Linked DNA regions of Homo sapiens. The protein of the gene in region 2 interacts with the protein of the main gene of each other region in a pairwise test. Each region holds a gene or a part of one and is shown on either strand. Other genes may lie near its edges.

Region 1 (3,751 bases), on a different chromosome or scaffold from region 2:
GTTTTCTTATCTATTTGGTTTTTCAAGCGGAAACTGTCAATCTTTCTAATTATAAAATTGTCGTGGGTGGCTGGGTGCAGTGACTAACACCTGTAATCCCAGCACTTTTGGAGGCCGAGGTGGGCGGATCAGTTGAAGTCAGGAGTTCGAGACCAGCCTGGCCAAAATGGCCAAACCCCGTCTCTACTAAAAATACCAAAAAAAAAAAAAAAAAGAGAGAGAAAAAGAAAAGTTAGCCGGGCGTGGTGGTGCATGCCCTATAATCCCAACTACTCAGGAGGCTGAGGCATCAGAATTGCTTGAATCCAGGAGGCAGAGGTTACAGTGAGCCGAGATTGCACCACAGCATTCCAGCCTGGGCGAAACAGTGAGACTCTGCCTCAAAAAAAAAAGAAAAGAAAAAATAAAATTATCCTCTCTCTATATATTAATATATGTCTTAGTCCATTCAGGCTGCTATAACAGAATACCATTGAGTGGGTGGCTTGTAAACAACAAACATTTATTTCTCATGGTTCTGGAGGCTGGAAAGTCCAAGATTAAAGCACCAGCAGATTCAGTGTCTGGTAAGGAAGGGCTGCTTCTTGGTTCGTAGATACCTGTATTCTTACTGCATCTTCACATGGAAGAGCTCTCTGGGACCCCCAATGTAATGGCACTAATTTTATTCATGAGGGCTTGCCTTCATGACCTAATCACCTCCCAAAGGCCACATTTCCAAATACCATCACATTGGGGATTTGGTTTCAACATGGGAATTTTAGGGGAATATAAACTGTCTATAGCATATGTATATATATGTATGATGGTTAATTTTAATGTGTCAACTTGATTGGGTCACCAGGTGTTTAGTCAGACATTATTCTGGGTGTGTGTGTGTGATGGTGTTTCTGGATGAGATTAACCTTTGAGTTAGTAGACTGAGTAAAACTGGTTGCCCTCCCTCATGTGAGTGGGCCTCATCCAATCGATTGAAGGTCTGAATAGAACAAAAGCTTGAATAAGAGGGAATTCTTCCTGCCTAACTGCCTTCAAGTGGGAATATGGGTTTTTTTCCTGCCTTCCAACTCAAATGGAAACATTGGCTCTCCAGGGTCTTGAGCCTGCTGGCCTTTGGACTAGAACCACACCATTGGCTCTCCTGGATCTTCCGCTTACTAACTGCAGATCTTGGGACTTTTTGGTCTTCATAATTACATGAGTCAATTCCTTATGATAAATCTGTTTCCATATATGTATACATTCTATTGGTTCTGTTTCTCTGGACAACTCTGACTATTACACTGTGTGTGTGTGTGTGTGTGTGTGCGTGCGTGCATGTGAGAGAGAGAGAGGAGAGAGAGATTATACTGTTATGCTGGTCTGTGGGCTCAGCATCAAAGTAGGAATTTTGCAACACACCCACAGTTAACACTCACTTTTTTCCTCAACACCTAGACTCTTTCAACTTCTTAACAGAGTCAGAATTTTGGAAGAAAAGAACATTAACACTAAATTGTCATTTTATAAATTATTAAACTAAAGCTTAGAGAAATAGTCAATCATAGTCCATAAGGAATGTATTGGCTGGATAGTCCCATTTCTATGCCATACCATGGCAAGTAAAAAAAAAAAATAATAATGTTTGCTTAAGGCTTATATGGGAAGTGTGTCCTGTGCTTTGATTAGAAAAGTGCCCCCAAAATGTTTTTTAACCTTGTATGGTTCATGAGCACCTCTGAGAATCTATTGAAACCTGTGAGTTCTCTTCCCGGAAGTGATTCTATAAGGACACAGACATAATTTTGCATATAATTTTAGAAACTCATTCACTTAAAAAAAAAAAAAAGGAATCTTCTTCCTGGTCTTGCCGTGACAGTCCCCAGCCCTCTCCACATGACCAGCCATCTGAGACCCATGGTAGAGCCACAAGTCTAAAACCCCTCACAGCACAGAAAGTAACTCAGAGCACGGCATGTGACCTCTCCTGGTGACACTTGAGTAGTAAGAAGTGGCAACTCAGCCACAGCAGGTCTATATTTGGACCTTCACTCATGGCAGGCCTGTTGCTATTTGTGGCTGCAGCCAGCTCATGTTACCATCCAGCTTTGGTGCCCCACTTGCAGAACTCTGGTGTAAAATAGGCAGGGGTAGCCTGTGGGGCATGCAGAGGTCACTAGGAAGGAAAGCCTGCTGAACACAGATTCAATTTTCTAGCAGAACTCCAGGTCCTCTGAGTTAAAGGAAGCATTTATGGACGCTTAGCAGGCAAGTTTTGGGGTAGTCATATTCTTCCAATGCAAATTGTATTATTAGAAACTCAATGCTGCAATATTAATGCAATATCTTTCCTGTAGGTGGGAAGAGATATCATGGTAAATTGCAGATGTTTAAATTACAATAAATAGTGTAAATGTTTTCTGTGCCTTCTTAAAGCAAGAATTCGCATTAACTGAACATGATGTTGGGACAGGATGTGAGAGGCTCTGATGAAGGCAGACAGGGGCTGGTGATTCTTATAATGTGTCTTTAGGATATCTGTAGTGCTGGGACCCATTAGTTAGAACCATTTGGTAGAACAGTTTGGAAATATAGATGTTGAATATCATCTGGCTATACTATTGTGTTGTAAATACATTTTATTTAATCTGTGTGTACATGCTGAAAAATAATAACTTCATGCATTGATTCAAATACTAAAAAACAGCATCGTAATTATTTTTCACTTGTTATGCATACAGCCTCCTCCTATAGAAAGTTTTCAGGTTCGGGCAGTGTCTGCAAAGCTGATTTGAATCATTTCATATCACTGTAACACTTTAAGGCAAGCTTTCTTTCACTGCTGTGGCTCAGGAATTGCCAAGGGCTGCATGGAAGAGCTAAAATTATAGGCAAAGTTATGTTCCTGCCCTTATGGAATCACTTCTGGGAAGAGAATTCACAGGTTTCAGTAGATTCAGTAGATATGCCCATGATCCATAAAAGGTTAATAAACAAGCCAAGTGAGGTGGCAGATTGCATGAGCCCAGGAGTTCAAGACCAGTCTGGGCAACATAGCAAGAACCTGTCTCTAAAAAAAAAAAAAAAAAAAAATTATTGGGGGACTTTTCTAAGTAATGCACAGGGATACACCTCCCATATAAGCCTTAGACAAACATCTTTTTTATTTTTTTTAACTGCTTCCCTTGGCATAGAGGAAAGGGTATCCAGCAAAGACATTCATAATGGACTATGACTAATTGCTTTACTTCTCTAAGCTTTAGTTTCACCATTTATAAAATGACAGTTTATTGTCAACTTTCCTTTCTCCCCAAATCCTGATTTTGTTAAGAAAGAGTCTAGGTGTTGAGGGGAAAAGTGACTGTTAACTGTAGGGTGTGTTGCAAAATTCCTACTTTGACACTGAGCCAGTTTGTGTTGAGACCACTTTGTGTTGTGTGTTCGAAGGGCAAGTGCCAGCTTGAAAGCATGTGTTCTTATCTGTATTTGCACTAAGTGTTTTCCAGTCTTCTGACAGTTCAACTTGGTGTTTCACATTCCAGCTTCTGGTTGAAATAATTTCTCATGATGATTTATTGGTCATACAGAATCCTGGCTATTTCCCTTTGGGTAGCACATGGGAATGTAAGCATTATTTTAGTGAACTGCTCCTCTGTCTGTAGATGGTGTGATTTAATGGAAACCTGGGTTTGAATCCAAGCTCTTCACCTGACTGGTTGTGTGTCAGGTGAAAAGCTTGGATTCAAGCACAGGGCTAAATACAGAGTAGCCC
Region 2 (3,751 bases):
AAGAGGATGCATTTTGTGAGTTTCAGCAATTTAGAACTAAACATGACCTTTGACAGCCTTGGAAGCATTGTTCCCCCTGCATCTACCTGTACACACAGAGCTACCAGAAGGGTGGATCATGGGAGTTTTCAAGATTACACTGTCTCCTCTATAATGGGAAAAATGAAATATGTTTCTACTTTAAAAAAAAAATTTAGAGACAGTCTCTCTCTCTCCCAGGCTGGAATGCAGTGGCACAATCTTGGCTCACTGTAACCTCAAACTCTTAGCCTTGAGATCCTTCTGCCTCAGCCTCCGAAGGAGCTAGGACTACAGGTGAACACCATACCCAGCTAATTTTTAAAAATTTTTTGAGAAATGGGGTCTCGCTATGTTGCCCAGGCTGGTTTTGGGCTCTTGGTCTTTCCAAGTTCTGTAGGGACACTTTAGAAAACTTATTTGAGATAAATTTCCTTCCACTTTACAGCAACACGGATGGAACTGGAGGCCATTATCCTAAGTGCGATGATGCAAAAACAGAAAGTCAAAAACTGCATCTTCTTACATATAAGTGGGAGCTAAACAATGGGTAAACATGGACATACAGAATGGAATAATAGACACTGGAGATGCCAATAGGTTGGACAGAGAGGGGGGATGAGGGATGAAATATTACCTATTGGGTACAATATACACTCTTTGGGTGATGGGTGCACTAAAAGCCAGACTTCGCCACTATGAAATATATCCACGTAACACAAGTGCATTTGTAACCATAAATCTACAAAAATAAAAATAAAAATGAAAAGCAATAAAAACATGCTTAAACTAAAAACAAACAAACAAAAAAACAACGAAAACAAACCATTTCCTTCCAGAGTAAAACGCAGTTTACTGAGCACGTCTCATAGATCGTGATTGGTCTGAAGAGTCCCTGTGCCCAGGTTAGGGTTGCAATTTACCACCCGAGCCAAGTGCTCGGGTGTCCTACGGATTGTTTTTTCTTTCTTTCCTTTTTTTTTTTTTCTTGGGATGGGTTCTGGCCATGTTGCCCAGACTGAACTCAAACTCCTGGAGTCAAGCGATCCACCCGCCTCAGCCCACCCACCCCCCGACCTCCCCCACCGCCCCCACCACGCAGTAGCTGGGACTACGGGTGTGCGCCACCAAGCCCTGCCTTGGGGTTCCTTTTCTAAAGTGCCAAATGTGTGGAGGTGGGGAAAAGAAAGGTGGACGCCTCAACGCTGTTATGGTCAAAGATTAAAATGCAACCACACTTTTTATTACACATGATGGGGTAACCGTCTGTTTATAAACAAGGGTCACTATTCCACGAGAGGCCTTACAACATTATGCCAAGCCCCTGGTACCTGGAGGACATCAGACCCTCCTGTTCCTGTGCGGCCTTGACTAGACGACCACTTGCTCTGGACTTGCTCCTCGAGGGGTCGCTCCATCTGGAAACTGAGACTGGAATTCCTGCGCATCCCTGTCCCCGCATCCAGAAACACTGCAGGAAGACTTCCGTGTCCGACCCGAGATCCGGAACAATTTCTGCTTCAACACAATTGTCCACGGAGGGCACCAGTTCCGTCCCACCGGCGGAAGCGAGATCTGCCTAGCTACTAGACCTGCTGCCTAGCTGTCATTCGGACAAAAAGGGGCGGGGCTGTATAATTGTCCAATCAGGGGCGGCGCCGGAAAGGAGGGTACGGCTACGCTGCGCAAATGCGTGCTACGTCACTGTGCGATCGGGTTGTGCTTAGCTTGGGGTCTCCTGGCCCCTTGACGCGTCAGGTTGCTGTACCCCTGCATCGGATGCGCTGTACCCTGCGCTGGCTCCGTGAACCTTAGGGACAACACCGGGACACCCGCGAGGCCGGAAAATGGTGAGTGTGCAGGGCCGGACTAGTTGGAACCGGCCGTGATCGCGGGACCCGGGCCTCCCCACGGTCACCTCCGGCCGCAGTGTGGGGCTGGGCTGGCAGCTGGAACTCCAAGCGTCCTGTCCCGTCCCTGCGCGGCGACTGCGGTCCCAGCCCCGGAGCCCTCTCTGGACAACTCCGCGCCCGCAGCCCCGCGTCTTTCCCAGATCGTGCAGGGACCACGGGAGGGTCCTGGGGAGAATCCCGCCTTGTGTGTTTGGTTTGTGTGGGAGGAGCTACAGTCTGGGGTTCCCAGTCCCTTCTTTCTTCCCAAAGGCTGTTTCCCCCTGAGTCTTCCAAAGATGTTGGAAGCAGAGTCTCAAATCCACTACCCTGTCCCCCCAGCCTAGCTCCTCCCACGGCGGGCCATTAATCCCTAGATTTCCGGATCCCTCCCCGAATTCCCAAACGCCTACTTCCGCTCGCCAGTGGAAAACATCGTCACCAACTCTTTGTCCTGTGTGGTGCATTTCAAACACACGCAGTATTTTAATAATCTTTTTTCCAATAGATGCCTCTTTTAAACGATTTATTTCTTGTTTGTGGATATTTTACATCAGAGAAAAATCAGAAAAATTATTCACTTGGAACTAATCTGCATAAAATGCTGTGGCCCTCATCCTGGTACCTTTCCAGGGCACAGACATCCTATGGGAACTCCTTTGCGTTGAGGTTCCTTTTTGTAAACTTTCCTGGGTAATCTATCTTTTCAGCACAGTTTCAGATTGGCACTGTCCCGCCTTGGGTTTATGACCTTGAAAAGATTTATTCACTCGAATGTCATTTTTCCAATAAATATAAAATATATGTTATCAGAAGAACTTGAGAGACAGTACAAAATATTTCCAAAGGGCAAAAAAGAAATGAATCTCAGAAAACAAAAAACATCCCAATATTACATTTGTTAAAAATTCTTTGTTCTTTCCCTGAGCACATGGAATATGTTTCTCAGGTCTGTTCTTTTAGTTTGATGTTTCAGATGGTATTCCAGGACTTAAACTTGCAACATCTAGAAGCATTCAGATAGAAGTAATACTTTTGTAAACTATTTATTGCCATGGAAATAATTAACTGACATTATTATTTTCTTTTTTTTTTTTTTAACAGATGGGGTCTGGCTGTGTTGCTCAGGCTGATCTTGAACTCCTGGGCTCAAGCGATCCTCCACCCTCAGCATCCCAAAGTGCTAGGATTCCAGGCATGAGCTACTATTACCGGCCCAACATTCTCATTTTCTGAAAGCAATAGTGGGTTTTCTTGTTAAATGGCTTAAAATTTTCTTGCTTCCTTCCTTTATTTATTTATTTATTTATTTATTTATTATTTATTTACTTTTTTTTTTGAGACGGAGTCTAGCTTTCTCGCCAGGCTGGAGTGCAGTGACACGATCTCAGCTCACTGCAACCTCTGCCTCTCGGGTTCAAGCGATTCTCCTGCCTCAACCTCCCAAGTAGCTGGGATTACAGGCACAAGCTACCACGCCCAGCTAATTTTTGTATTTTTTTTTTTTTTTTTTAGTAGAGAGTGTTTCACTATGTTTCCCAGGATGGTCTCAATCTCCTGATCTCCTGACCTCATGATCCTCCCGCCTTGGCCTCCCAAAATGCTGGGATTACAGGCATGAGCCACCACGCCAGGCCTTTTGCTTCCTTTATACGTAAACACTGTGTTTAAGTAATTCTGCTGGATTTTTTTTTTTTTTTTTTTTTTTAAAGACCAAGTCTTGCTCTTTTGCCCAGGCTGGAGTGCAGTGGCACAATTTTGGCTTACTGCAACCTCCGCACTTGGAAGCTGAGGAGCCACAGGCAGATGCTGTTAGGGGAAGAGGGGAGGATGTCTGAGGTTTT

What was found.
Region 1: the proteins of ZNF490 (region 2) and FSD2 interact in binary tests that used the Homo sapiens proteins (3 or more experiments, as listed by UniProt).

The regions. Positions count from the first base shown.
Region 1 is NC_000015.10:82,804,462-82,808,212, reverse strand, and holds the start of FSD2 (fibronectin type III and SPRY domain-containing protein 2), read left to right. Parts: upstream 1-2,143; 5' UTR 2,144-2,247; intron 2,248-3,751.
Region 2 is NC_000019.10:12,609,215-12,612,965, forward strand, and holds the start of ZNF490 (zinc finger protein 490), read right to left. Parts: upstream 1,600-3,751; 5' UTR 1,467-1,599; coding exon 1,350-1,466; intron 1-1,349. Other genes in the region: ZNF791 (zinc finger protein 791), read left to right, coding at 1,866-1,868. UniProt on the Homo sapiens protein: May be involved in transcriptional regulation.